Linked DNA regions of Homo sapiens. The main gene of each other region encodes a partner of the protein of the gene in region 3 in a complex. Each region holds a gene or a part of one and is shown on either strand. Other genes may lie near its edges.

Evidence for each region.
Region 1: the proteins of EDNRB (region 3) and EDN1 are in contact, whole or in part, in a cryo-EM structure (PDB 8XWP), measured with the Homo sapiens proteins. Residues at the interface, in NP_000106.1 of Homo sapiens: Pro88, Pro89, Ile94, Glu95, Ile157, Asn158, Lys161, Glu165, Asp166, Trp167, Val177, Pro178, Gln181, Lys182, Val185, Phe240, Ile243, Met245, Tyr247, Leu252, Ile254, Leu256, Leu257, His258, Pro259, Lys270, Lys273, Leu277, Trp336, Leu339; in NP_001403492.1 of Homo sapiens: Cys53, Ser54, Cys55, Ser56, Ser57, Leu58, Glu62, Cys63, Val64, Tyr65, Phe66, Cys67, His68, Leu69, Asp70, Ile71, Ile72, Trp73.
Region 2: the proteins of EDNRB (region 3) and GNAI1 are in contact, whole or in part, in a cryo-EM structure (PDB 8XWP), measured with the Homo sapiens proteins. Residues at the interface, in NP_000106.1 of Homo sapiens: Asn134, Pro136, Ile140, Asp198, Arg199, Ala202, Val203, Trp206, Ser207, Arg208, Ile209, Lys210, Ile212, Met296, Met300, His314, Gln317, Arg318, Val321, Thr324, Val325, Leu386, Val389, Ser390, Lys391, Phe393; in NP_002060.4 of Homo sapiens: Ala31, Arg32, Glu33, Lys192, Asp193, Leu194, Glu318, Tyr320, Phe336, Thr340, Asp341, Ile343, Ile344, Lys345, Asn346, Asn347, Leu348, Asp350, Cys351, Gly352, Leu353, Phe354.

What each region holds. Positions count from the first base shown.
Region 1 is NC_000006.12:12,284,961-12,294,743, reverse strand, and holds the start of EDN1 (endothelin-1 isoform 1 preproprotein), read right to left. Parts: upstream 4,384-9,783; 5' UTR 4,115-4,383; coding exon 4,051-4,114; intron 2,404-4,050; coding exon 2,235-2,403; intron 804-2,234; coding exon 648-803; intron 484-647; coding exon 340-483; intron 1-339. UniProt on the Homo sapiens protein: Endothelins are endothelium-derived vasoconstrictor peptides. Probable ligand for G-protein coupled receptors EDNRA and EDNRB which activates PTK2B, BCAR1, BCAR3 and, GTPases RAP1 and RHOA cascade in glomerular mesangial cells.
Region 2 is NC_000007.14:80,137,831-80,147,569, reverse strand, and holds part of GNAI1 (guanine nucleotide-binding protein G(i) subunit alpha-1), read right to left. Parts: intron 1-9,739. UniProt on the Homo sapiens protein: Guanine nucleotide-binding proteins (G proteins) function as transducers downstream of G protein-coupled receptors (GPCRs) in numerous signaling cascades.
Region 3 is NC_000013.11:77,914,065-77,924,669, forward strand, and holds the start of EDNRB (endothelin receptor type B isoform 1 precursor), read right to left. Parts: upstream 4,768-10,605; 5' UTR 4,561-4,767; coding exon of another isoform or gene 4,510-4,560; coding exon 4,027-4,509; intron 1-4,026. UniProt on the Homo sapiens protein: Non-specific receptor for endothelin 1, 2, and 3. Mediates its action by association with G proteins that activate a phosphatidylinositol-calcium second messenger system.

The DNA.
Region 1 (9,783 bases), on a different chromosome or scaffold from region 3:
TGGTAAATACATTGACTCAGAGAGGCAAAGGCTGTATATAACCCAATGACAAAGGCATCTCTGGATATATTTTGGTTGGGAAATCTACCTGTAGATGAAATGGTATGTGCTAAAAGTACAGAGGACATCGGTTTGCATTCCAGAGCTTCATGGAAATATTTAAGAGGGATTCTTTTGCTCCTTTTAATCTATAGGATGCATAGATCTCCTCTGCTACTGTTTTCTAAGTCTTTCACCTGCCCGGGTAAGAAGGGCTGGAGGAACAGGCTGCTGGCATCACTGACTGGGGCTAGTTGTTCTTGTGAACCTCTTACCTAATTTTTCTTCCTTCCCTCTTACCTGGTTTGTCTTAGGTGTTCCTCTGAACTTCTTCTGATTTTTCTTCCTCTCACTAACTGCTGATAAATACACTTTTTCCCAAGCTTGGAACAGTCTTTTCCTTTCTTATGATTATTCCAGTCTTTCTCCATAATGTCTTCAGCCCTGTTAAAATACACAAGGAAAAACATTTCAGCAATGTTATATTCAGCTTTACCCTGACTTTCAATGTCTCTGTTAGTCTCTCTAAAACAGGAAGGCAGTACCATGATAGGAAGGAGTTCAGGAGGCTGTTAAACTGATTGAAAAGCAAAGGTGTTTCTGCTCACCTGAGTTCTTTTCCTGCTTGGCAAAAATTCCAGCACTTCTTGTCTTTTTGGCTAGCACATTGGCATCTATTTTCACGGTCTGTTGCCTTTGTGGGAAGTAAATTCTCCAAGGCTCTCTTGGACCTAGGGCTTCCAAGTCCATACGGAACAACGTGCCTATTATCCAAAGAGAGAAAGAAACTATATTAGTGTAATTAATAGTCTTTAAAATGACACATGGACACACCTATTCCACTGGGCACACAAGGAGCTCATCACATAGCACTTGGGAGCATCATTTCAGAGGGTAAAGTGTAACAACAGCCAGGAACACCTGTGCATCAATGGCCCTGACTGTATGTATCCAGGCAGGAGAAAACAAGTTTTTCTAATTCAGTGGAATTCCATTTCAACTCTTCACAAAGTTCAGTTTCTTCTTGACACAAGCAACATTGCTTTTTTGTCAAAAATTAGGACATCTCTGCTTGGCATCTGCTTTATATTTTCTTCCTTTTCTAATGGTCTATTTAGTTAACTATTTGTGGGTACACAGTGGGAAGAGGTTTCAATGCAAAACCATGACTCACAGGATTTTTAAAACTTATTTTCAACTCAAACCACGGAGGATACTGCTAAAAGTGCCACCGTCACCCCACCGACCCCAGTGGTTGGGGGAGGAGGAGGCACATGTTCACACATTTCTCCTGCCAGTCGGTGGTACCATATGGTTGTGGAAGGACTCATAGCCAGAGGGCTCTCCAATAATTTCCAATGTGTCCATTTTCATTCTCATCTAAGAAATAAAGTCCTCCCTTTGGAAGTATCACCTTAGTAATTATTAGGCTCCTTGTGGTTTTTGGTGTGGTTTGATATTGTTTGGATTTTGGTCCTCCTTTGTCATAACGGTACATTGTATGCATAGTAAATGTGTGCTTGTTTATGACTGCTTCCGACAGATGATGAACTAGTGTCCAGGGCAGAAGGAGGAAATCTGCTTTTCTTCTCTGTAGGTGAAAGAGAAGCCTATGGACAGTATTTCTATTTCAGTTCTGAAATGGGCATTTCTAAAGGGAAAATATAGCAGCAAAGGAAATCCGGGCTCCAGTTCTAGCTCTGCTACAAACTCACTCCTGCACAAATGGCTTCAACACTTTGAGCCTAGGTTTTTCTGTAAGTAAAATTAAGTGATTCTAACCCTCTATATCATCACTTCTGCCTCTCAGTCTCCACCCTCCCATGAGAAGCACAGGTTGCACTAACCCACATCTGACCTCGGCAATTATTCCCGAAACCCCATCAGATGCCACTGTGAGAGTGTCCCCCTGAGGCCCTCTCACTGAAAGTTCCTCATTTGAAACGTGCAGTGGCCTCCTGCTTGTCCCATCATGAGTAGCCTGAGCTACGGGGCCTCAGAAGACCCTCCCCTTGGTTGCTAAGAACGAAGCTGTCGTTATTTTCAGGAATAGAGGGAAACTGTCCCCACTGAGGCACTTGGATGGTGTTAGAAGGACTACCTTCAGAGTCCCTAGAAAAGAAACTCTAAAACTGGGCTCCAGTGGAGCCAGCGCTAATGAATGACTAGGGTTACAATGCCCTCTAGAGACTTACTCGGGAGTGTTGACCCAAATGATGTCCAGGTGGCAGAAGTAGACACACTCTTTATCCATCAGGGACGAGCAGGAGCAGCGCTTGGACCGGCGGAGCCGCCAGGGTGGACTGGGAGTGGGTTTCTCCCCGCCGTTCTCACCCACCGCGCTGAGCTCAGCGCCTAAGACTGCTGGGGAGAGAAAGAGCAGGTCAGTGGGGGATGTCTCCTCAAACGCCGAGAGACATGCTGGATCACAGTAGAGTCAGAGCTAGCAGAGCAGATAAAAGCAGATGAAGCACACAGCCTGCCATCAGCAAGAAACACAGAAAAAAGGGCTCTTTATTTTTTTCCCTCCTTAACATGAGTTCACCTTTTGCCTCCCCCTCATGCCCTTGGCTTATCCACCTTCAGGGAGATTACACAAATGCAGAGGAGATAAACACCTGAAAAGGGACTTCCCCCACCCCTCTTGAAGCAGGCTCAGGGAAATGCTGTGGAATGCTGCCTGTTGAAAATCCGGCTGGCTTCTACAAGGAACTTGGTAGGACAGCACTATCCACTGAAGCTTACTTAACATTGGCACATGACTAAAGACAAGAAATCACAGTTATTCCTAGCTTTGGGGCCACTTCCCCATTCAGGATGACCCTCTCTTTAGGGGGTACCCATCCACTTCACATGCTGTGTAGGGCACAGGGTACCCCAGATGATGTATATCTTTCAAAATTAGGTGGGGAAAATGATTGGAGAGAGAAATTAACTATTCAATATTCAATTCAGGAGGGTAACTCCATAGAAACCAGTGACCTAAGGTGGGGCTGAGAAGCAGGTCAGGGGACTGAAGGTAGGCTGGGGGGATTTTGAATTCCGAATCCCTGGGCATCAGGCTTGTGTGGGATCCACTGCCTCCCCCTTCTCCACTACTGCCTTGCCTCTTCCTCCTAACAATTTAGCCATGCAGCTTATCTGCCCAATTTTGTACATTTCAAATGATCAGACACATTCCAGGATTTTCATTCCCTTGACATCCTTTCTCTTTAGTCAGGGTCACGAAAAGACAAAAAAAGTGCACTGACCCTAAAAACGGGGGGGACCCGGGCAGATGCACACGCACTGCCTAAATCCTTCGGCAGCCAAGAATTATCCTAGCTCCCCTCCCAGCACAGGTGAATAAAGCTGAAAAGAGAGCTCACACTGTTTTGGGTGCCAAAAACCTGCCAAAAGAAACCTAAAGTCAATGATGACAAATTTTAAAGAAAACATCTGCTTCACCCAGAAACCGCCTGCGGGGGGTGGTGGCGGGGGGGGGGGGAGGCGGTAGTTAGTCAACAGACTTTTGCTCTGCAGGTGATTTTACTGAACATACATTGCTTGAACGACTGGATACAATTCCTTGGCTTCAAGCTGGAATGCTTAAATATTTTACACGTTAACACACTATTAAAATAGTGTTTAAATAAGATTTAAGTTCCTATATGGCCTGTGTACCTGTATAAACACATATATTACAAACATACATTTGACTAAATTGTATATGTCCATACTCTTCTCATTTTTTAAAAGCCAAGGAAACACATAATGGAATAATAATAATAAAACGATAAGTTATTTTAATGTCATGTTATAGTCAATTGCACCTAATTGTATTCAATAGAGGAATTTTACATTTTACACTAGAAGACTTAAAGTAGCTTTCAGCAATAATTCTCAGACACTTGCTCTCTAAGCTGCAGTCATAAAAAGAACGGGGAAAAATAGAAGCAAGAAAAGCATGAAGGTGGATAAGAACACACTAACTTGTAATTCCGAGACTTACAAGTCAACGAGCGTGCCTACCTGTTTCTGGAGCTCCTTGGCAAGCCACAAACAGCAGAGAGAAAATCATGAGCAAATAATCCATTCTGAAAAAAAGGGATCAAAAACCTCCCGTTCAAACTGAACCCAAAGGAAAACGAAGAAAAACAGCTTCAGGTCCCTCAAAGCGCTGCGGGTTCCTCAGATCTCAAAGCGATCCTTCAGCCCAAGTGCCCTTTTAACGGGGAGAAAAGGCAGCGCCTGCCAGGAGAGAAGGCAGCGAGCGGAGCGTCTGCAGGCGCACGCGGCGGTGGAGAGCTGGGACTGCAGGAGGCGCAGGACCCGTTCGCCTGGCGCAGATGCAGAGGCGCGTCTGACTTGGACAGCTCTCTGCCGGCTTTTTATATTGAACCCCTATTAGAGTGGGGGTAAACAGCTCCGACTTTATTCCAGCCCCAGACAATGTTATTGTGTTATTAGTCACCAACAGGCAACGTGCAGCCGGAGATAAGGCCAGGCCCGAAAGGAAATCACTGCTAACTTCAGAGGCAGACGCCCGCCGTCTGACAATTCGGGGGCAGGGCTAAGAAAAAGAAAATACCCATTAGAGACCTTTGCTAAACCTGCCCGTGCAGTGCTGGAGTCCGCTTCCCCTTTGCAAGCTGCCAGCCCCGGAGTTCAAGAATCAGAAGAGGGGACTCCAGAAAAAAAGTCATACCATTGGTATGAAAAGTATGAGCCACAGTTTAAATAGATTGTATTGTTGTGTGCGGGGAATTTTTTTTAATTGTTGCTCGCTTCATTTTCCTTTTATGTCTCTCCGATTCTAGTCTCAGTCAAACAAGGGAATGCTCTCCCTCGTCACTGCCCCACTACTGGGGGTCAGACTATTTTGGCAGATCAACGTACTTTTCTCTTCAAGCCCCTTCCTGCGGGTCTTTTTTGCTGAAGTTCTTTGCATCTATCGGAGAAAGATCCGTGAGGGATTGGCAAGAAAGGGAGCTTAAAAATAACATCAGAGCTCGTTTAGGCACATGCCCAGTCTTTTCCCTATCACTGATGAGAAGCCCCGATAAGTTCTTTTGTGTGTCCACACTTCCCCTGCGGAGGAGGCTGATAAACTGATTGAAAAGCAAAGGTGTTTTTCACACAGAACTTAAATCTTAAGATTGGTCGGTGCCACCAATCTTAAGACATGGCGGGAGAAGAACACCAGGGGGAGATGAAGAGCTACAGGGGCTGATGTTTTACTAGGACAAAAAGGAAAACCCTTCTAAATGGCAGAAAAAAACGCAACCTGGCTTGGGGGCCGAGGAGGGTCAAGGAATGTTGCCTAACATAGGAAGGAGGAATGCACCTCAGAATATTCTATTTATTCCCCGCACAAGCAGGGACATATTTTCTGGGACTCTTTTTTTTGGGGGGGTGTCTTCATTTAGGGCAAAAAGGTGTTCTTGTACAAGGTTAAGTGAATATGCAAGGAAGGTGGTGCTGAGAAGGAAATGCCATTCGAACAAGGAATCAGATAATACTTCACATTTAATAATGTGTTTACATTTTCAAAACAATTTCCTGTCTATCTAACCTTGAAATCCCCCCCTGAAGTACACACAGGGCAGTTACTGTACAGGTGACATCATGCCTTAATAAAGAAAGCAAAAGGTGCATGGAACACATTGGCTTTTTCCGCTAGTCCCATTTTTCAGGTTAGACAACTGAGCACCCAGAATTTTTGTTTGTTCTCCACCAAAGCGCTCACAGTGGCCCAGTAAGACCTATGGGATAAATTTAGAGTCTCTTCCCAGGGGATGCCATCAAATACACACTTTGTCCATCTCCTCTTTTTGTTTTACTCCAGTTTTTCTGGGGATGGAGGGTGGAATTCAAGCACGGATGAATTTCCAAGACTGGCACAACACACATGCTGGGAAACCTTTTTTCCCTCCTCCTTCTAAAATCAAAAGGACAGTTTTTATCCCAACAGCAAAGCCGTGGGTTTGGACAGACTCAGATCCCCAGACCTCCCTCGAAGTCACAGCTGGGGGAACAGGGACAGTGGCAGCGACAGGTCCATAATGACATGCATCCTCTAAAAGAGCCACTGAAGCAAGAGTTGGAGATGGGAGAGAGAGAGGCAAGAACTCTCCCTCCCACACCCACACCCACACCCACACCCAGAGATGCCTCCACCCTATCCCCAGGGCCTCTGCCGGGGCCCCTGGCCTCCGCTGTGCGCTTACCTCAGCCTAGCCCCGGGGCCCAGGGAGGCCACAGCTCCCGGAGGACAGGCGGCACTGAGCCGGAAGCCAGCGCTGCCGCCTGTGCCAGGCAAGGGTGCCCTGACCTCCCTCTCCAAAGCCGACCTTGGGAGAGGAGAGGAGAGCTGATGTCACATTCACAGGTTCCAAGCAGCGCCTCCCCCCCAACACTCCCGCGGAAGAAAGGTGGCCTGGGAAATATGTCTTGGCAGGGACTCCCCCTACTTTTTTTTTTTTAACCTTTTGGCAACTTTGACCAAACACTGACAACAGTCAGGACCAACATGTTCTCAAGGCCCCTACCCGGAAACCACCGCCCATGCCCTCCCCAATATTCTCAGGTCCAGCCTGGGTTCTACTTCAGCTGGAGTCCCTTCTCCCACCCCACTCCACGCCACCCCACCTTGCTGAGGCTGCCCCTGCAGGTTCCAGCAACGCCCAGCCTTCAGGTGGAGAAGTGGGGCAAAATGAAACTGCCCAAGCGCCTCCAACAGCACTCACCACGCCCCGTCTGTGTCATCCCGTGAATATGAATTGGAAACACAAAACGTGGCCAGCCATCCGCCCACACCTGGCCCTTCTCGAGCTCGGGGAAAGTAAATAGTAAGGAAGAATGCAGGATTTCAGACCTGGAAGGGCCCCACCGTGCCAAATATAATGGTGCCCCTGTCTCTTTGAATCCTGAATTTGCAAGACGTGTGCCTGCGCGCGCGCGCGCGCGCCTGTGTGTGTGTGTGTGTGTGTGTGTGTGTGTGTGTGTGTGTGAGAGAGAGAGAGAGAGAGAGAGAGGGAGAGAGAGAGAGATAGGAGAAGAGAAGAGAGAGAGAGAATTTCCGTGTCTTTTTCTTTGTGTGTCAGGGGCGAGGGGTGGCACCTGCCTTCTCTGTCCATCTCTCCATTTCTCCCTCTGGCAGCAGCTCCCTTTTCCTCCTGTAGGGGCAGAGGGAAGCCCCATTCAAGCCCACAGAAGGCAGCTAGGGCACTGCCAGGCAGCCTCCCAGCAAGACATTTTCCCAAGAATCAAGAAATGAGGGGAGAAGGAGAACCCCAACAAACCAGTTTTACAAGCTTGATGCCCCCACCCCTCCTCCACTTAAGGCACTGCTAGACAGAGATGCGGGGAGAAGAACTAGAGGTGAAAAGAGCTGGACAAAGGAGTGAATATGAAGGATAGCTTCATAGCCCCACCCCACCCCTCAGAGGACTGCAGGGGGAAAATGCTCCTTTTGGCCACAGTCACTCTCAGAAAGGGAAGGGAAGGAAGGGAGAGATGTAAAGAGGAGGATTTTTTTTTTTCCCCAATAGAAAGTTTGCTGTGGCTGTTCTTGCCTTTTTTTTTTTTCTCAATTTTAATTTTTTTGGGGACAGGGTCTCACTCTGTCTCCAAGGCTGGAGTGCAGTGGTGCAGTTATAGCTCACTGCAGCCTCAACCTCCTGGGCTCAAGTGACACTCCTACTTCAGCCTCCTGAGTAGCTGGGACAACAGGCTCAAGCCACCATGCCCAGCTAAGTTTTAAAATTTTTTCGTAGAGATAGGGATCTCACTATGTTGCCTAGGCTGGTCTTGAAATCCTGGCCTCAAGCAATCCTCTTACCTTGGCCTCCCACAGTGCTGTGATTACAGGCGTGAGCCACCACTCCTGGCCTATTCTTGCTTTTGAGGCTACACTTGAATGCTGGAAAGTATTTGATAAAACTATTTTTTATGTATTTCTTTCTGTATCTCTGTATTAATAGATATCTATAAATAAAACATGCTGAGCCCCCAATACAGATACTACACAGTAGCAAATTGTACTGTTTTTAGCATTCTCCAGCTTTCCTTTCTCAACTTTTGCGTAATAAAATTTGTAACTTTGCCAAGCCAATAAATTTGGTATGAGATGTTGCATTTAGCTCAGCAAAGCTAACAGTCGTTAAGTTGCTTGAAAATCACACAAAGAATGAGGAAGTATTTTATCATAGGCAAAGTGAAGCTATCCACACCACTAGGCCTGATTTAGTCTTGGGTTGGTAACTATTATACATTTCTACTCTATGTAGCACTTTTGTGAAAAAATGTGTAATATAGTTATTAGGCCTGTGACACATCACACATCTCCAGGAGCTATGAAGAAACACAGCTTCTCCCTATAGTCCAAAAAATAATGGTTGATTTAGCACAGGAAATATGATGGTCAATGTAAATTCATCCTGTACATTTTAAAAACATACAACATATGCATCTCTATTTCTTGGACACTCATCCATAGGATAATCATAGATAGCAAGTGTTTATTTAAAAGAGTATTTCCAATTCTCTAATCTAGCATTTCCCAAAGTTCAGTTATTCATTAAACTGCTTCACAATTTTTACCATATTTGGGTGCCACCTGTACATTTTTACTTAATATTTTCCTTTTAACTGACTTGTTTCTTTTACATGAATAATTTTAAGAAAATTTTATATCATTACTATCTTAAGCAATAATGTACATGAAATTATGGTTGGTATGCTTAAATAATCCATATGAAATCATGGTTGGTATGGTTAAAAAAACTACATGAAATCATAGTTTAATACATGCTAAACATTTAATCATTATACATTCATTAAGCTATTAAAAATAAAAATGTTTGGCTGGGCATGGTGGCTCACACTTGTAATCCCGAGGCCGAGGCAAGTGGATCACCTGAGGTCAGGAGTTCGAGACCACCCTGACCAACATGGAGAAATCCCATGTCTACTAAAAATTCAAAATTAGCCAGGCATGGTGGCGCATGCCTGTAATCCCAGCTACTCAAGAGGCTGAGGCAGGAGAATCATTGAACCCGGGAGGCAGAGGTTGTGGTGAGCCGAGATTGCGCCACTGCACTCCAGCCTGGGCAACAAGAGTGAAACTCCATCTAAATAAAATAAAATAAAAATGTTCGTACATGTATCTTCTATGCCCACACAGACATGCTCACCACCCTTGGGGAACATGCTCACCACAGTTCCATCAACTGCAATATCTTATACCTTCTTGTTTAAGAATTAAGCCCTGTTTCAATTCCTGTCTCTGACCTTTACTTTCAAGATAACTTTCAAATATTCCACACAAAAATGCTCCTACAGATGCATCTCAAAAAACAGATGTTCCGGCATCCAGAATCTAGAAAAACAAAAGGTTCACATCCCAAAAAGTTTTTAACGGATACCTCCCCTTGGCTTCTTGCTCCAGTGCTGCAGCAGTTATCTTTTATCTCCCTTCCCACTCTCTATTTAAATCTCCTCTCTGAGTGCCACTGACACACATGCATGCACACATCTGAACCTATAAATTAGACTAAGAGAAAATAATGATATGATTATGTATTAATAATTCATGATTAATAATTATATTAGGATATTATTGTTTGTTAATTATTATTATTAATATTAGAATCATATTTCACACATCTCAGAAAAATGTGATAGCCAGTGGCTGCCTCCTCATCTTTTAAATGTTCATTCTATGTCATGAGTGACATCCGAAACTAAAGGGACTCTGATGCA
Region 2 (9,739 bases), on a different chromosome or scaffold from region 3:
CAGTGAAGCCTGCTGTAACAGAAAACTATACTGGGTGGCTTAAACAACATTTATTTCTCATAGGTCAAGAAGCTGGAGATCGCATCAGGGGGCCAGAATGGTCTGGTTCTTGGTGAGGGCCCTCACTGAGTTATGTCTCATATGGCCACTTCTTGGTACAAGCAAGAGAGCTCCTGTGTCTTTTTTTTTTTTTTTAATAAGGATACCAATCTCATCATGAAGGACCAGCCCTCATTACCTAATCTAACCTTAATTACTTCCCAAAAGCCCCATCTCCAAACCCTATCACATTGGGGGTTAGGGTTTCGACATGTGAATTTTGGGGGAATACAAATATTCAGTCTGCACCAGCAACAATATTTATTTATGACAAAGGAATTTTATCACAAACATTACCAGAGGAAAACAGTCAGAAAAACATTATTATTGGGGCTCTTTCAGCCTGACCTGAACAATCGTATCATCAAAAGAACTCCACTTAAAACACTCTTGCCAAATCATAAAAGATTCATTATCACTAATTATAGTTTTTGGTCATTCCTAAGGAAGCGGATGTTTCCATGCAAGATGATACCAAATGGTTTCTCTCAAAATGCACTACTAAAACAAGTTTCTAGATTGACATTAGAAGAAGTTTAACTATAAAACAGCAATAATATTAAGTGTGATAGATATGTGTGTGTTCATGTACATGTGAATATCTAGAACATGATGAATGTTTACTCTGTGCAAGGCAGTGTTTTAAATACCTTACTGATAAAGTGATAGGTTTCATGAATGTGGCAAAGGCCAGATAAGATGTGAGAAATGCTTATGAAATGGATAAATGGAAAAGAACCAGAGAAGATTACCTCCTCTAGGACTCTGAGATGGACTGGACTGTGGCTCAGCAATACAAGCACCCCGGGAGCCTATGAGAAATGCAGAATCTCAGGCCCCACCCCAGACCTACTCAATGAGAATCTGCATTTTGAAAGATTCAAAATTACTTCTATGCATAGTAAAGTTTAACTTTAAAAAGAACGAGCTCTAAAAAAATAAGGTCAGCACTTGGATTGCAGCAAGGACATACAGTAGGAATAATTGTGGGAAAAAAACACAAAAACCTAACTTCAGAGCCAGACACAATAGAGAATGTAATATGAGAAATTTTTGAAAATTATTAAAGTGCTTTTTTTCTCTTTTGCATTTACATGAATAATGGGAGAAGAGGCAGACACTGGTATCATCCAGACAAAAATGGAAGAGTACAAGTGCCTTACTTTCCCAGGCATCCCATGGCAGAGCCTGCAAGCTTGGGAGCTACAGGGCATTCAGTTAGGAGCAACTGGAGCAGTCACACAGGGAAAAGAGAGGCAGAGTCAGACCCATATCTTAATCTCCACTCTGGGCCAAAGCTGAATTGTATGTCAGAGAAGATGAAGAAACTGCTAAAGGCAGTGGGGCCTGTTTGGGTTAAGAAAGTCTCCTAGGCAGCAACATGTATCCAAGCAGTATGATGAAGTGTGGCTAAGCAGAGGGAATGCCTGAGCTGACCTTTCCCCATCACCATGGGACCTCTGTGGAATGTATGCAACATATAATTTTCCTGATGCTTGAGATAACCAGAGAAGGCAAAGCACTCGAAACAGCTGAGAACCTGGCTACCTCATACTGGCTCTACAGGAAAGGGCTGCCTGGGAAAAACCAAGTAAGAAGGACACAGCATCCACGAGATTGAAAGGAAAACTGCAGCCAACCCAGGGTGTACAGGATTCACACAGACAACGTACTGCTTAATATATGCTCACAAATGAAAAATTATAAGAGGACACAATTTACCTCGAGACAGAGTCAAGACACCATAAATAGCTGAAGCTCAAGAACTTCAAAAATCGTTTTTCAGACTATGAAATAGGTACAATATAATGAAAATGGCTTTGAAAAAGCCAGAAAATAAAGAAGTAGAATAACAGACACTTTTTCAAGCTAAAGATTAGAAATGGTTTTTAGACATAGAAATTTCACCACTAAAATGTAAAGCTCAATCTATTAATAGGTAGATTAGTTATTACCAACTGGATAAAAATGAACCTAGAAAATGTGTAAGTAGCACAAAAAGATAAAAACCACAAAGAGGTTACAATTAAGTTCGAATGAGAAGCCCAACCTTCATATAAAAGGAACTCCAGAAGGAGAAGAGTACACGGGAATAAACACCACATTACCTCTTTAAAAAATATATAGATTGATATGGTTACATGACTGCCTATTTCTCAATACTTCTATATCAATCAGAAAGTCAATAATTTAAAGCAGAAAGTAATTTAAAGAGTGACTGCAAAGTGAAAAAGGAAAAATATGAACACTGCCTATTTTTCTGAATATTCTGAAAAGTTTAAATAAAAAAATAGATTAAAAATTACTTAAGGGGTGTATTACTTGGATTTTATCACTTTTAAAGCTAGGCATGACTTGAGACCAGGACACAGGAGTCTTTAAAGCAGTATGAAGATGCTAGTGGATCAGGTGGATGGAAAAAGGTGCTGGAGGCAAGAGAGGACGAATTGATGGAGGCAAGTGCTCAGTGTTGGTCTTGAATTAGAGGAGCACCATCTTATAGTCCCAGCAACTTTACTGACCACCATTACTTTTTACAGTAACAAAATATACCTTGCATACATTTCTTGATCTGATTGCTGATTGAATGTGCTCAGTTTGTGAAAACTTAAGTGAGCTAGTATACATGGATCAATTTCAAGCTATACCGAAATAAATGTAATTCTTGGAATTAGATTAACTTCGGAACCATATAAGAAGGCAGTTTAACTCCTACTACATTATATTGATTATAACTGTAAGTTTACTTACAAGTTCCATCCCTCTTAAATACCATGAAGAACAAAATTAGTAAGCCTTCAGCAACGGCTGTCAAATAAGATGTATGTGCCCAAACAAGAAAAATGAATAATATAGATCAGTTACTAGAAAAAATTCTGGATTGTACTTTAGTGAGGCAAGGGTAACAGGAGGAGTTTCATACAACTGAAGATGTAAGTCTTAAGGAACTCATTTTACAATTTATTAAAAGGCACAAATACTATCACAGATTCAACAATTCACTGTTTCTCTATTAAGGTTACCACCACTTTTAAAGACATTCTTCTCCTAAAAGTAAATCCGTTATAATCCTGGAGTTCTATCAGGAATCTCTTTGAGTCAACAGTGCAGGAAGTTTTAGAAAGGATTTTATATTTTGTGGAAAGTTGTCAAACTCCTCTGAGAAATGGCACCATCTTTTGAATAAACTTAACGTTTCATAATTTACACTAACAGCTTTATTTTCCAAAAAAAAAAAAAAGTTTGCAAAAAGCCACTGCACTAATTCTAAAAATGGATAATAAAATGAAGAGAAAATTACTGCTATAACATTTGTAAAATCTTCTGATTATGTAAAGTGCATTCTCTATAGAATTCTTAACACAGCACAGATATTTACCTGGTCTAGCCCCAGTAAGGAGGCTGTTAAAGAGAAATCCAAGTCCCTCAAGGAAGTTACGGTGGGATTAGAAACTAATGTTTAAAACTGAATTTATACTTCTTGAAGTCTTCACTATATATATACACACACACACATATATGCACACATATAGATACACACACGCGCGCACACACACACACACACATCCTTGCTAAGAAAAGCCAATAAAAAGAATTTAATGTCTATGACCACAAATGGATGAAACTGCAAGGGAGGGCTGATTCCACAGAGTCTCTGAAGTATTTATAATAATAGCCTATAATTATTAAGAATGTATGTACCATGTAGTATTCTAAGTACTTCAGATGCATTAGCTTACTTTGTCACTAGCCCTATGAAGTAGATATATTTATTATCCAGCATTTATAGAAGAAAAAACTGAAGCTTATAAAATTTGGTAACTTGCCCAAGGTCTCATGGGAAAACTTTTACCACCAGAGTTCTAAGTCAACTCACCTTTCCTCTCTGGAAAGCCTTTCTACAGAGCTAAATAAACCTTGGAGGGGAAAAAAATTCCTTAGACATGGAAAATGTTAGAAAACTAAATTCATAGATAGCAAAGTCTCTTCTACATTATAAGTTTCCATACAACACAAAGCTTACACCCAGTAAGGGTTAAATAGTAGGTTCAGAAATACATGAAAACAACTGACAGATTTATAACCAAAGTAATATCTGAGAGGCAAGCTACCTCCACCTCCACCCCCCAAGATCAACAATGAAGTCCCAATATTGACACTCACCTCCCCTACCTAGTATCTATTTTATTTTTTCTTCCCCATTTGACATTATGAGGACTTATCTTTATGTATATATTGTATTTCCCCAAGTAGACTGTAAATTCTCTTAAGGATCTGGTAAGGCTAATGCGTAATTTGACAGGAAAAGCATGGAACACATCTTACAAATGCTACTAGTGATCATCCTCACCACATAGGAACAAGCAAGACATAAAGAACAGTCTGCTGGTGAGCCTCTGAGCAGCCTGCTGGCTCCTGAAAGCTGAGGTTTACCAGAGTCACATCATCCTGTGTGAAATATATAGTTGTGAGTATATATTAAATGCCACATTGCAATAGTGTATGCATTTTAAGAAAGCAGCAAAATAACATGTGAAACAGCAAGGCAGCAATACTGTTAAAAACAAAGTTCCCAGAATATTCAAATATGAAAATCACATTTCACTCTACCACTTATTTACCAAGAATCATGATTTTGATCATGCAACAAGAATATGGTCCCCAAAATTAGTTTACTTTTTAGAAATGTGTTAGGAATAATGTAGTAGGTTTTCATTACTCTAAACCAGCAAGATATATATTGGGCTAAAATTCACTCAAAATACCCAAGGCACAAAGAATATGTACCAATTTTTCCCTTTAAAAGAAAACTAGTCAAAATTAATGTTCAACAATTTATCCATTAATTTAACCAACAATTATGAAACAGCTACTATGTGCCATCCCATCAGATGATAAGTCTGACAAGATTCATGCTCTGATGGGGCCAATGCCATAGAGAAAGGCAACAGACAATAAAAAATAAAAGTACAAGATGATTTCAATATGGTATTAGTAGGAAGGGAGACGAAGGAAGACTAATTTAGACTGGATGATCAGGAAAAATGTCAATAAAGAAGAGGCAAAGAAAAGCTTTATTCTTTCACATTACGACTTGAGTAACACCATGGGTTCAATATGACATGTAAGAAACTGGTGCTTTTAGTGTTACCATGATAGTCACATAAATTATGAGGGACTGGAGAATGTAAAATTACAATTATTTTGCACTTTCAAAAGTGATATATAAGATACTGATGAAGATAATGGGAAATGGGGTGCTGCTATAACAAACACCTAAAAATGCAGAAATGGGCAATGGGCAGAGGCTAAAAGAATTTTGAGAAGCATAATAGAAAAAGTCTAGGTGGTCTTGACATACTGTTAATAGAAATACGATGTTAATGTCTCTCCCAGTGTGGGCTCAGAACGAAGTGAGAAGCATGGTAGATGACACATTATCACCTTAGAAAATATGTGAATTATCATGAACATACTATTGCTAGACGCATGGAGCTTAAATTTGCTGCTGATGAGGACTTGGATGGGAAGAAAGGTGAAACATGTTATCAAAAACTAGAGGAAGGGGATCCTTGCTATATACAGGCAGAAAGCTTAGCTGAATTAAGTCCAGCAGTTACGTGGAAAGCAGACCTTGTAAGCTATGAACCTGGACATTAAGATGAAGAGATTTCCAAGCAAAGTATTAAAGATGTGGCCGGTTCTTTGTTTTTGTTTTTTCTTGCTGGTTACAGTAAAACGGGACAGGAAAAAGGTGAAGTAAAAGAATATGAAATGAAATAATGCTGTCAGACCACCATAATTCCAGAGGCAAGAAACAGGCTGATAAAAGTAATCAGCAGCATACAGGTGCTACACCCTTCATTAGAAAAGAAGGATGACTCCCAAGAGTGGAGAAGTTCAGTACCCACAGGGTGGAGTAAAGAGTCACAGAGAACTATCCCCAGTCCTTGAAACCTAAAGGAGTTTTGAAAGTGCTCAAAACTAGAGACTCCTTTTTTCTTTCCATTTAATGATAACCTATGCCTGACCCACCATATTCTGGGAGCAGATAACTTGTTTGCTAGTTTCACAGGTCCACAAACAGACAGGAATTTTGTCCCAGTATGGATTACACCCAGAATCTCACCTATTCCTGAGTTAGATCAAGAGCCCTGGTTGAGATTTTGCAGTCAGTTGTGGCTGTATTGGGTTGAGACTTTTGGAGATGTTGGGAGAGGGTGAATGCATTTTGCATGCAGGATGCACATGAGCCTTTGGGAGCCAGAGGGCGGACTGTGGAAGGCAAAATAATGGTCCCCAAAGATAAATATGTCCCAATCCCTGAAACCTGTGAATATGTCACCTCACAGGGCAAAAGGAATTTTGCAGATGTGATCTTGAGATGGGACTATTAACTTGGATTATGTGGGTGGGCCCAATGTAATTACAAGGGTCCTTCCAAGTGAAAAAGGGAGGCAGGAGAGTGATGCCACATGAGAAAGACTCCACCAGCTATTGCTGGCTTTGAGATGGAGAAGGCACCATGAGCCAATGAAAGCAGGCAGCCTCTGTAGAGCTGAAAAAGGCAAGGGAATGGATTCTCCTCTAGAATCTCCAGAAGAAAAGAAGCCCTATCAACAACCTGACTTTAGCCCAGTGGAAACCCTTTTTGGACTTCTAACCTCCACAACTGTATGACAATAAATTTTGTGTTGTCACTACGTTTATGGTAATGAACATTCATTAAAAAAAATTTTTTGCCCTATTTCCGTTACGGCTTTTAATTGGCACTAACAAGTTATGACAGAAACCAGTCTGAGCACTAAAAGATTAGGTAGAGCTGACCTTAGTTCGTAAGACTCAAATGGAGTCTGGGATCTGAACTTCACTGTGTCATACTCTGGGGAGTCATACATTGGTTAACTGCATGCCAGAACATGTGACCAAGAAATCTGCAACAAACACACTCAAATACACTCAGGTCTTCCTGTGTGAATTTGTTGTACACAGAATTTTCCAAGGCAGTTAGACATGTGTAACAAAATAAAAATTGATTGTGGTTGAATACACAATTTCTGTTTAAAAAATTACAGCAGTCTTTTTCAGGTTTAAATAACATCTATTAAATTCTGTAAGATAGGCATGTTTCCTATCACTGAGACATTCAACAACAGTCATACTTTTTATGCATTAGAAATTGGGGCCAAAGGGTGCGGTGGCTCACCCCTGTAATCCCAGCACTTTGGGAGGCCGCGGCAGGCGGATCACGAGGTCAGGAGATCGACACCACTCGGGCTAACACGGTGAAACCCCGTCTCTACTACAAATACAAAAAAATTAGCCGGGCGTGGTGGCAGGCACCTGTAGTCCCAGCTACTTGAGAGGCTGAGGCAGGAGAATGGCGTGAACCCGGGAGGCGGAGCTTGCAGTGAGCGGAGACTGCGCCACTGCACTCCAGCCTGGGCGACAGAGCAAGACTCCGTCAAAAAAAAGGAAAAAAAAAAAAAAAGAAATTGGGGCCAAAAATAAAAATTAGAAAATGAGATCTACCTTTACAAAAAAAAAAAAAAAAAAAAAATTGCAGGGCAAAGTGCCATAATTGCAACATAGCAGATCCTCCTCCAATGAATATCCATTATCATTTTCTCAACTTTAATTTATCAAATACAATGACTGTGAAAAGCTCTTATAAATATGAAAAAAAATCTTAAACCAAACAATTTGATTTTAGATGCCATGTGTTCACTGTGGTCATCACATAATTTACTATTCCTTTTTTGTTTACATAATTTGGCTGGACAGTTATTTGCTCTCATTGATATTGAAAACAGCAGAGCACAAAGTTTATATTCCAGCAAGATAATAATTTTACATAATTAAGAAGCCATTTTACACATAATAAAATAGAAGGGTTGTTAGGTATTCAAAGAAAACCTACAAAAATTCTGCCTTTAAAGTGCCCACAGCAGTAGGAAAATAGGCTGGGCAGAAGGATAAACAATACCAGAAATCAAGTGCAAATATGCTTTAACATGTGCCAACAGTTTCTGTTTGGAGAAGGGTGCCCTAAGGAAAAAGTATAAGGCTAGAGGGAAGCCAAGTCTAAAAGATTTTATTCTGCAGGAAACGGAAAAGTCAACAAAGGTTTCTGAGCAAGGAAGCAGCATGATATCTGCAGTAGAAAGAACAGGCTAGAGGGAAAGACAAGATGCAAGAGAGCCTATTGGAATTAGGCTGCCAGAGGCAGAGAAGGACTTGAACTATGAATATGAAAATGAAAAACAGAAGGTACAGAAAAAAATCAGCAATTCCAAAACCTGTGGCTTCTTACTAAAGTAACTAATACAAGGTATGCCATGAGAAAGAAGCACACAACCCATACTGAAATACCGGATCCGTTTATTCAAGGAAATGGGCTTTTTGACATCTAAGATCCTAAACCAATTCTAAGAAAGTCAAAGCAATGAAAAATCAAAAGCCCTGCATAGCCAACATTTCTCAACTAGGGGAAGTCACAGGGCAAGTTCAAAAGGAGTGAAGATTAATGATGCAGCATCCCAAAGGGCTGCCTGGTGGCAGCAATAGAAAAATATCCACCAAACAGAAGAAATCCAATCCCTCAGCTCATTTTCCCCCAAACCTGGAATATTTAAACCAAGCTGAAGAAGGAGACAAGGGTGTGGAATTTTGTATATGAGGGGGAGTGGAGCGGAAGGAAGGACAGTGAGGTGGAATAAATGAGAATACTGCTCAAAGCTTTGGAACAGAAAATAAATTCATGATCATTTATTTGTATGTCAAATCTTATGTCCTCCAAATACATAATAAAATAATATTTCATAAGTACAAGTAGTATACTATAGTTACCTACCGAAATAAAGCATAAGCTTAATCTTACTGCCCTTAAAAGGATGATAAATTAAAACATTCTCAAAGATATAACAATAAAAAATAATTTCCTCAACAATTAGACATTATTATATAAAAAACTTTCATTATTACTTACTTCTTTAAAATGTTTCTCTATTAAGTATTATCATCCTAATAAGCATAAAAACTAAACCTAAAAGACAAACAACCCAAACTCTGGCCTGATTTCCTTAGTGTCAATGATTAGACTAGCTCCTCTTTTTTTAAGGCCTAATTCACTGCTCAGTATAGTGAAATACCTCTGATTTAAATCATATAGACAGTGCCAAAATCTTTACTAATAGTGTGCAAGTCTCATATCTAAATTACTCAGCCCAGCTGTTTAAAATGACAATACATTCCTTAAGAAAAAAATGCAATATATTTAACAGACTGTCTTAAAAGTACTTTAGAGATTTTATGCCTTAAATTTAAAAAACATCATGTGATGAGAAAAACAGAATAAGTGAAGATGAACACGATCTAATGTAAATGGCTGTGACACTGGTTATACGTTACCTAGAAACGATTTTACATTTCTAGTTTATTCTACTGCCGTGTTTTACATGGAATTATTTCATTTAGCTGCTTACACATATGCTTTAAGGATTCAAAAAAGAACCAAAAGGTCACAATTTACTACTAAAGTCAAATTAGGAAAACAATGTTTTCGAACATTCCAAGAATTGAATTTCTGGAATAAGTAAGCCAGAATTCTGTTTACAGGACTAGGGTGATGGAACTCTGG
Region 3 (10,605 bases):
TATATAAAATAGTGATTAATACCAAGAGTACAAGAATAACTTTCTAGCACAATATGGCAATATCTTTCAAAATTACAATGCACACACATTTTGATTTAATAATTCCAGTTATAAAAATTTACCCTTCAGATGTAGTCACACATGTGTGCAAAGCCATATGTACAAACATGTCGTTTGTAGTCATGTTTGTCACGACAAAAGCTGGAAAACAAAGAATACTCAAAACGCACATACACACACATACACACATTTTAATAACATTTATCATTTCTTGCTATATGCCATGCCCTGTGCCAAATGATAGTCATCTTTTTACTTATATATTCTTATAAAACTTAACATTTTAATGTATGTACATGTACACGTGCATATATATTTAAATAAATATCTCCTTTGGATGCCTGAAGTTTTCATTGTTCTTCTGGTTGGTGTTGTGTAATGTAGGCATAGCCCTAGTGTGTGCCTATGAGAAGCGTAAGCAACGCTTATTATTTTCTGCATGTTTACATGAGTTTAAAGTTCTTCAGCAGCCTCAACTTGCTAAGTGTCCTCAGACACTTCCCTAGCCTTCAACACAGGATTTCACCCACAACACAGGAGACCTGTGAGAGTGGTATGATTCTTCCTAAAAGTTTCCAGGGACCCAGCTCCTTGAGGAAGTCCAGGCAGATCAGACATGTTTCCCAATGCTTTTCAGCTTCCCACTGCAGCAACTCCAGATAAAGTCCCACCAATTCCACAGCCTGAAGACTGTAGCTTCCAATAAGAGCTATGACATTTTGTGATTTGTCAACTTTACTGAACTCTATATTCATTAAACTCTAGATTAATGGAATAGATTCACATTGACATTTCTGGGCCTCTGGGCCCTTAGTGTGCCAACAAGAGAGTAGGAGAATTTCACAAACCCCCAGAAATTGTGTATATTGAATTCTCAAAGAGAATTATAAAACCCCACCAAAAAAATTAGAAATCACTGGTTTAGATTTAAGCCTCTCATATTAGGATATATTAAATATAGCCTTCATAACTCATTTAAATTACTTTTTTCTGAATGATCATACCTGACTACTCTGAAATTCTAAATGCATTAAAAAAACTACGTTGCCACAATTATTTAGGAGAATAAATGGCTTTTAACTGGTCCTGGATTTGATATTTTGGTAAATTAAGCCATTAGAATAACTTCCACTGATATTACACACTACAGACCAGCTGAAGGGGGTTTCAAGAGACCGAAATCCTGACTCAAATTAATTTCTGAAAATGTTTACCAAGTATTCTACTGTGGGATAGCATATTATTTGCCATAATTCCACCAAATGCTCCCAAATGAGATCCTAAAACAATACTCAAGGTTGGAGATGACCATGCAGTGCCTGAGCATGCTTTGTGCAGTGGGATGGGGTGGACCACAGGGTCTTGGGCTGGATGATCTGCTTTCAAGCCCCAGTTTCATTACTTTGTAGTGGTATGACATTAGGCAAGTTACTTCTTCACCTCTCTGACAAGTAGTTTGCCTAGATCTAAAGCAGGAATGATAACGATACCTCCTCTACAGGGTTGTTATAGTGACTTAATGAAATAAACCAAGTGCCTAGTGCATCATTAACTGGTAGCCATTATTATGATATTGTGTCTCAAGCTAAACCTAAGGCCACAAGGTAGGATTCAATAATGATGACCTTAGTGATGGGACGTAATGTGATGAATGTGTTTGTGACCCATGTAGATTAATGGATGGACAGATTTATAATGACTCATTGGCTTATTTCAGAAGTAAAAACACAGTCATGTTAAGACTGGATGGCTTCAGGGAAAAGGATGTAACTTCCTAGGGAAATCATATGGGAGTTTGAAATGAAAGGGAAACTGTATGACCTCTTGGGGAGTCAGAAATTCTCTAGTTTATTACAAATACTCATTTAACCAGACAGAGGAAATAAGATGGTTCTGGAAGAGCTGATTTATATCTGTCCTGGAGGCAGCACACCAGAACTAAAAAAATGTTCTCAATCCCACCTTCTACACAGCACTTCAGCTACTGTCTGATTTAGAAAGGTTTCTAACTGGGCTGGACATGTGGGGTTTCCTGACCCCCTAAACAGAACTTTCATAAAATCCTGTGCCAACCTAGCAAAACTAGATTTTAATCTCCCTTTGGGAAGAGATCTTGTTAGATTTATTTTAAATTTATCACAACACCTTGTACTGAAAAGTTCTCAATTCGGTTTTGATGAATTGAATTGAAATTCCTTTGCCAAATTAGAATGGGAAGATTTAGTTTGTGGGACGCCTTAAGAAGTAAAAGGGTCACTTCTGGCCCTCATGGAGTTGTGGCTGCATTTAGAGATTCAATTTCAGCTCTTACCAAGTAAATCCTCACAGTTCATCAGAATCAATTGCCATACAGGATTTTAGGATTTCTTCAATCGATTCCCCCATTTCCGGGGGTGATTCCCTTTAGAGAAAACTATATCCTAATCCACTCTCACCGCTAAACCTCAGAAATGTTCGGAATTCCCCTTAAAATATAGCTATTGGGTTAGGATTTTTAGAGATTTATGAAGGGAAATTTACAGGCATGCCTTATGGTAACTACTCCTGCCAATAGGTCAAAGCATTCCCTACAACATTTCCCAACTTTACATTCCATTTTTTTCCCCTTGTACTGAAGTACTGAAGTCAGGGCTAGCTATAGGCAAATCTGCAAAGCACAATTCCATTTCCTTACACTGTGATTGTGTTTTTATGTGCAACTTTCTATTGCTGCTGCTGCTGCTGCTGCTGGGAAAGTTTTAAATATTTTCATATGTCTTTGAAATTTTCCAACTGTTTTATTTAGACTGCTTTTTTTTTTTTAACACCATAAAGCCTCAGTAAGTGGGCACTGGCAGCCTTATTGTGGAATTGAGGAAACTGAGGCCCAGAGGTGCTGGGATGTGTCTGGAGTTCCAAAGCAACCTGGAGCAACCTGGCTCTTTGTGTGTTTCTACTGACGCCCATGGTAATCACACAATAATGTTAACTACCGAAACCCTTACAGATTTTGAGTGCTCCTTGGTCTTGTCCATGAAATAATTGATGGGGTGCCATCATATAGCTTGCACTTTGGAACCTGACAGATTGGGTCTGATCCCCAGCTCCACCTCTAATTCATTTACTTTGATCATCCTACCAGTCATCTGTAAACTAATTGTAATATCTACTTGTGGGCTGCTGGAAGGAATAATGGAAGTAACACATCTCACCCAGTCCTTGGCCCACTGTAGATATTTAATACAAAGTAGCTACAGTCCGTCACAGCAGGTGAACTGTGTTTTTCCTACTCACCAGTCTGGATCTCTTTTTTCCAGGCCATTTATTTCCTAAATACCTACTTTGTACCTGCTACTTTCAAAGTCTTCCAAAACAGTCCTTCCCAAAGTTAGTGGGCATATCAATCACATGAAGATCTTAAGATGCAGATTCTAACTTAGTAAGTCTGAGGTAGCCTTGCATTCCTAACAAACTCTCAGGTAATATTGATGCTGACTGTCCATGGACCACACACTTTTGACTAGAGGATGTACCCCATTAGGTGCACTTAGGGACTAGATCCTTCAGGACTAGTGGTTCTCAAACTTTACAGTTCATCATAATCACATAAAGGGCTTGTTAAAATACAAATTACTGTGCTCCACTCCAGAGTTTCTGATTCAGTAGGTCTGGGGTGAGGCCAGAAAAATCTTCATGTGCACCAAGTTCCCAAAGTGATACTAACATTGCTAGACTGGGGACTACGCTTGTCCTAAGCTTAGCAGAGGTCTACTGAAGACCTGAATGGAATTTTATTCCAATGGTTACTGACTTTTATGAGTGGACAGAACCAAATGGAATTTGGTTCCAAAGATTACTGACTTTTAGGAGGGGCAGAACCTTAAGAGGGAGCTAAAGGGAAGCTCCCTCTACAAGCTTTCTCATCTCCCCGTCTCCAACCAGGCCCCCTTCCTCAAGCCCACCATGATTTCAGCAGGCGCCCTTTACCTTGTAGACATTGATAGGGATGTCAATGACGATGTGCAGCAGGTCTCCCAGAGCCAAGCTGGCGATCAAGATATTGGGACCGTTTCGCATGCACTTGTTCTTGTAGATAATTCTCAGAAGTGTGGAGTTCCCGATGATCCCCAGCACGAACACAAGGCAGGACACAACCGTGTTGATGTATTTGAAAGTCTCCTTGATCTCGATGGGTCCTTGGCACGGGGGAGGGGAGATGGTGCGTGGCGGAGATCCTGCCGTCCTGTCTCCTTTAGGCACCTCCGCAGGTGCCAACGACCGCGCCAGACTGGCGTTGGAACCCTTGGGCCATAAGGTCTTAGTGGGTGGCGTCATTATCTCTGCGGTTTGCAAAAGCGGAGTGGCCCTGTCAGGCGGGAAGCCTCTCTCCTCTCCCCAGATCCGCGACAGGCCGCAGGCAAGAACCAGCGCAACCAGGGCGCGTCCGCACAGACTTGGAGGCGGCTGCATGCTGCTACCTGCTCCAGAAGGCGTCCGGTGGCCGCTCCGCAGTTTCAGAGCCTAGAGACAAGCAGAGGAAGGAAGACAGGACACTTGGGTCAGCTGCCCGAGCCAAGTCGCTGCAAACGCTAATACCGCCCGCAGCCTCTTCGCCAGTATCCACGCTCAAAAGTAACTCAAGTTTGCGCGCCAGTGGGAAACTTGGCGCTCATGACTCGCCAGCGCGGGTCGAAACTCCTTCCTGATGCCCTCTCAGCTGTTTTTCTTCCCCCGCGTGGCCAGGAGGGGTAAATAATATGCAGTGGGGCGGGGCGTTCTGGAAGGGGTGTGCCAGGGAGGGAATGATGGGGGTCCCAGGCAAAGCTCCGAACTCTTTCACGTAACGGGAGGAATACAGACACGTCTTAGTTAAGCGTGCGTGGGAACCGCGGAATTAAGGCACCTAGAGGCCAAGGGCTTGTGTCAAGCTCTGCATTTTGCCCCGCAGGGGAACCTCTATACCCCGCGATTGAACTCGAAAGACTCCTCCCGGCGGATGAAAGCCGCTACTCCCTGGCTGGCTGAGCTACAGCTCCCGCAGCGCGCCCAGGAGTGCGCCGGAGATTCGGAAACCCGCAGAGACTTCTCAAGTCAGCAGGAACTTGGAAACCGCTGTTCCCTCCAAACGGCTTCAAACACTCGCGCTCCTTCCTTTACCCAACCTAATTTTAATTTGCCCTCTCTATAGGCTTAATTTTTATTTTTTTAAAATCCCAAACTAGTAAGCCAAACCGAAGCCCCAGAATAAGGTTCAATCAATGATTTTAATTCAACACCAAGCCCGAATGTTTACCTCTCGGATCTGACAAACCAGATGCAGAGCGACGAATGGAGACCACCTTCCCGGGAGGCGGAACCCAGCTGGGTTCCAGCCTGCTCTGGGAGAGGAGCACGCCTCCCTTGAGCTGCAGGCGGGTCCGGCTCTGACGAAACGCTGCGAGAATGCCAGACAGTGTAGCCTCCACCGTTTGCTCGGGGTCTCTGCTGCCATCAGACAAGTACTTTTATTCATTCATCCCTTCCCATCAATCACCGCCAGACTCCTCCCGCGCCTTCCGACCCCGCTGCAACCTTTCCCCTTGGGCGATGCCTGGACAGCATCAGTAGTAGTTGCCCGAGGGAGGGGGGCAGTCCTCGTCCGGGGACAGGTCCCAAAAGGCTGTTTATTTGTTAGAGTTCTACGCTCTTCAAATGAACCCAAATCAAGGGCAAGTTATCACGCACCATGTGACACCCGGCAGCTCCAGACTAGAACAAGGCTCTGCACTGAACGTGATAATTGAACTTTTAATGCCAAGTGTCACTTTTCTTTCAGGTAAATGTTCCGCCGCTGTGATATTTAAGGTTGGTTTGTGGGCGCTGCTCTTTGCTCTGCTTCATTTTGCCCTGAAGTTTCATTTCAAGCCAACATTAACCCCAACACGGAACAGCTCGATCTTTTCTTCCCAGGCCCTCTCACTGCCCCGAGAGAGGATTACAAGTACTCCTCATTTTCCCCAGTACAGCTCTTCTCCTCTCTTCCTGCCACAGTATCGGTGTTAGGCAATCTCAGGCATTTTTATACTGTACCTATGACAGACTTGATGCTTATCGGAGACATGAAAATAATCAGAAAGCTGCCATGCAAATTCAACATGATATTTATTTACCAGGTAGAGCAATACAATAAGGTCTTTCTATCCATTCTTGAGCTCCATGTTTACCGCAGAGAGGAAAATAACAGCGACTGGTAGTTTTGCCCAGAGATTGTATAAAAGAGGTCAGGAAGTCAGGCTTGGAGATGCACTGGAGAGTACTGTGCCGTCCTCCAATCAGCAAAATCCCTACTGGATCTGTGGAACTTCAAACCCAGAAGCACCCATTCCATGTAGCAGTTTCACCCAGAGACAGGAGGCTCGTTTTTTGCTTCATGTTAGTTAATGGAATAGATGGGACAAGAACCTTGGATTTTTGGCTCTTAGGCAATGCTTTCTGGGACAGTGGAAGTAGAAAATCAATTTCTATTTAAAAAGGTGAACTTTAAGTGTGAAATGTGGTTAGGAACATGGTTACGGAGTAAGGCTAAAGGAATGAGAAATATGGTCTAGGGTTGTGAGTGCTAATTCCAAATCTGGCTATTTTGAATTGCAGTCCTTATCCTCCCTGTCTCGTAAGAACGAGGTCAACATTCAATTGCTGAGCCAAGTAACAATATACAATGTTGTCTGAATAAGGAATTATATGGAAGCTTTGGAATATGAATATTTTGCTTAGTTGACTCCACCCAGTGTTGGATCTGCCCTTCCTATACAAGCTTTGTTGGGTTCATGCCTATGGCTCCTGTGGGGTGACTTTTCTCTCTCCCCACTGGCCTTCTCATCATCTCCATCTCCATTCAAATTTCCTCCACTGAGTCCTGGAAGTCTGCTCTAATCCTCACTGAGGTCTATCTCTTTACTTTTCTTGGAGCACTTTTGGACTGTTAACCACAACTTAGCAAGCACTTGATCACATAAGAGACATCTATGGGTCACTATTGATTTCGTGTGACTTAATTTCTTTTACAGGACAGGGACTTGAATGAGTTATATGTTCTTTCTGCACCATCCCACTACCTGCCACAAAATGAGCTTAAGAAATATTTTTTATAAATTGATAATGATATTTTAAAGTATTCAGTTATACTTTATTAACTGGTCATTGGGCTCAAGAATAAGGCCAAACAATTTTAAGGTAAATATACACATTCCTCATTTGGAATTTAAAACACAGTATCAGCTACTCCTTACAGGGTCTACCACCTGCATTAGACACCTTTTCACAGTACCTCATTGATTCTCTGATGTTTGTCTTCCAGCTCTGTATTATTTTCTATGATGTTATAGGCAGTGAAACTGAGTCTCAGTAATTCACTTAAGGTCATGTGGCTAGTTAGTTGTGGGACCAGGATTTGGAGCTAGGATTTGAATGCATGTCTAAATGGTTACACAGACTATGCTTTTTATTATTGTAATTGCAGAAAGCCTAAGCAAATTTTTTTCTTATTTTGGGGAAACAGTGTTCTAGACATCAGTAATATGCAATTGAAGTTTAACCTTAAATATTTCACCTTAACATGTAAAGACAACCATGTGAAATGTAAAGAATTGTTCATTGATCTTCATGAATGACTGGGTGTCAGTTTCCCCTTTTGTAAAATGGAAGAAAAGGATTAAAGTTACTTCTTGCTCCAATAAATCAGTCCGACTGACAAACTGCCTCTGTAGGAGTGTCTTAAAGTGCAGAAAAGTGGAAACAGATTCTAGGCCAATATTTTTTTTTAATGTTACTTTCATTACTCATGCCTTGAGCAGTACTGCTATGGATATAGTTTTTTTTTCATCTTATTACTTAAAATCTGTTATCGATAAATTTTATTTATGAATTCACTAGCAACTAACTACTATGTAAATTTCACTTCTATATATGAGCAAAAAGTTGTATCAAATTTTAAGAATTCCTACCTGCAAACTTGTGAACTAATTTTGCATTTATGAGAGGATTTTTTTTTTTTGGCTAGGTAAATGTGGAGTCTTTTACAAAGTTGCTTATTTTAAACGTTTATGAAGTGTCTAGGAAATCTATCAAAATTCCAGATTGGCTAAGATCACTTCTCAAAGTTAGAAAGTTGAAGATAGACAATGTCCCAGTATTTCCTTTAAATGCTTTATCTAGAAGTTCCTGAAGACAGGGTTTAATGCAATTCGGAATTCATTTCTCAAAGAGGTTTGCCATGGGGAGCATTCCCAAAATAAACCTTTTCGCCTGGTGACAGAACAAAGAAAAGCCCTTTTAGCCACACAAAAAAGTTAGTACTTTCATGTAATCCTCTTGAAATGAATGTGCCCTCAAAACCTATGTTGAACTCTCTAAATCATGAATGCTGAGAGACAAGGTGTGCGAAAAACACAGAAAGAGTTGGTTCAACTGGTTCTCCACATATTCCTCTGGGACCAGATTCAATGATCAAATAGTGGTTGAAGTAAGAGAATAAAAAAGTTTTAAAGTGACTGCAAAAGTCAATAGCAAACAGCATGAGAATTTCTATTTCTTGAGTTTTCTTTTCTATTAAGTGACTGTAGCTATCTGGATCCATGATAAAGAATCTTTTTTAATTAAGTATAATGTATGTACAGTGAAATGGACAGGGCTTAACTGCAGCTTGAAGAGTTTTGCCAAATGTTTGCAATCCTGTGACCCATACCTAAGGGGCTCTTTGAAAATTCATTTATTCTTTAAAAGTGGTAAAATTTGAATATTTTAGATTTGGACGCTATTCCTGTTAAAACGCTCATTAAGACACTATTTCTGCTTTATCAACTTATCTGATACATCTTATCAGCTTCTATAACTAAAATGTCACTCATAAATTAGAGGTGTGATTAAATGAGAGAATCTGACATTTGAAACGTTATCAATGATTGCTTGATGGTACCAAATTACACTTCATTCCCTGATGTAATTAAAATTTGATAGGTTTAATGTAACTAGAAATAAGACTTCATTAATTCTTTTCTGCCTATAGAAAATATGAGAAACAGACAGGATACATTCTTTTTTTCTGAGAAAAGCAACATAGTTCAGCTATTTTAGGCTATGGTCTACTTTAATTAAAATTAGACAATAATTTGCTTTCCTACTTATAACTTAAGTAATTTTTATATTCCTTTCTTTGACATATTTTTTTTCACCAATCTCAGTAAAACAAAAAATGAGTGTAACCTGGTCTACAAACTTCTTAAAACTGTTCACAGAACTTTTGTAACAACTTTGAAAAGATATTAGAAATTCCAGTCTAAGAAGGCAGTCGGACCTGTGCCGTCTTGGTTTGTCAATGCACACTGTATTTATTAAATTATTCTTAGGCCACTCAGTAATGGAGAAAACACTATCATTACTGTATGTCAGCACAGTCTTATCATGTGTAATGCACTCTTTGGGGAGTTGTTATTTCATATGGAATATAATTTATAATGAGTTTATGTATTTTCTGTGACTCTAATTGTTTTCTTTAATTTTTACCTTTCCTTGTTTCCATTCTTTTGATACCTGAATGAAGTGTCCAAAGAGATGTGAAATAGTCAAAATAGGTTAGAAAGCAAAAAGAAAGAGAAACTTGGATCTTTAGCTATTTACTGGTAAATAAAAGAGAGGTACTTTTTTTTTTTTTTTAAAGAAAGTAAAAGTTATTTGTAGTACAGAATAGAATGTGCTAGGAGAGTCCAAAAAGGAGAATTCCCACAGCAGGCTTTTTTTCTTCTTCTTTTGTTTTTAACAACTGTACTTAATCAATGAGATACTTTAAATTTCATTTCTGCTAATTATTAAGCTCTGGTAATGGAAATACCTTTTAATCAAAATCTGCCAAAATCTGTAAAAAGTTTCCGATTATGCTTTGAGATTTAATTGTAGGGGAATAGAACTATTTGTATGAAAATTTAAAGGGAAACAATGATTTTACTGAGTGTTTATTTACTATACATTAGATGAACAATTTAACTTTCAGGCCAAGAGTCATGGCATGCTTTTGTCAAAGCGAGGGATCATCTGGGGCTTGCAAAGCCATGCCAATTTCATAAGGCGATTTTTGCTTATCTCTTTTAGTGATGCATGTATAGCAAATTGCTTCTTCTCTTTTGGGCCCTGCTAGAGAGAACAATTATTGCTATCCGTGAAGAAAGTGATTCTGAAATGGCTTTACCAGCTGTGAATTATCCAAAGAAAATTACTCACAGAATCTCATGGGAAATGCACAGGCGACTTACTTCTTATGAGGGCAGCAGATAATGCAAAGCTGGCATTTGAGGGGGACATGGCCAAGGTAACAGGTGCCAAGTACCCTGCAGAGAGGTAGGCAGAATATAGAAATGGGAAATCCAAGAAGCGGTTAATTCCTTGAGTATCTTTTAATGTGGTAAAAAAACACATAATATAAAATTTAACATCTTAACCATTTTTTAAGTGTACACTTCAATTGTGTTAAATACATCTATATTGTTATGTAACAGATCTCTGTAACTTTTTCATCTTGCAAATTTGAAATTTGCT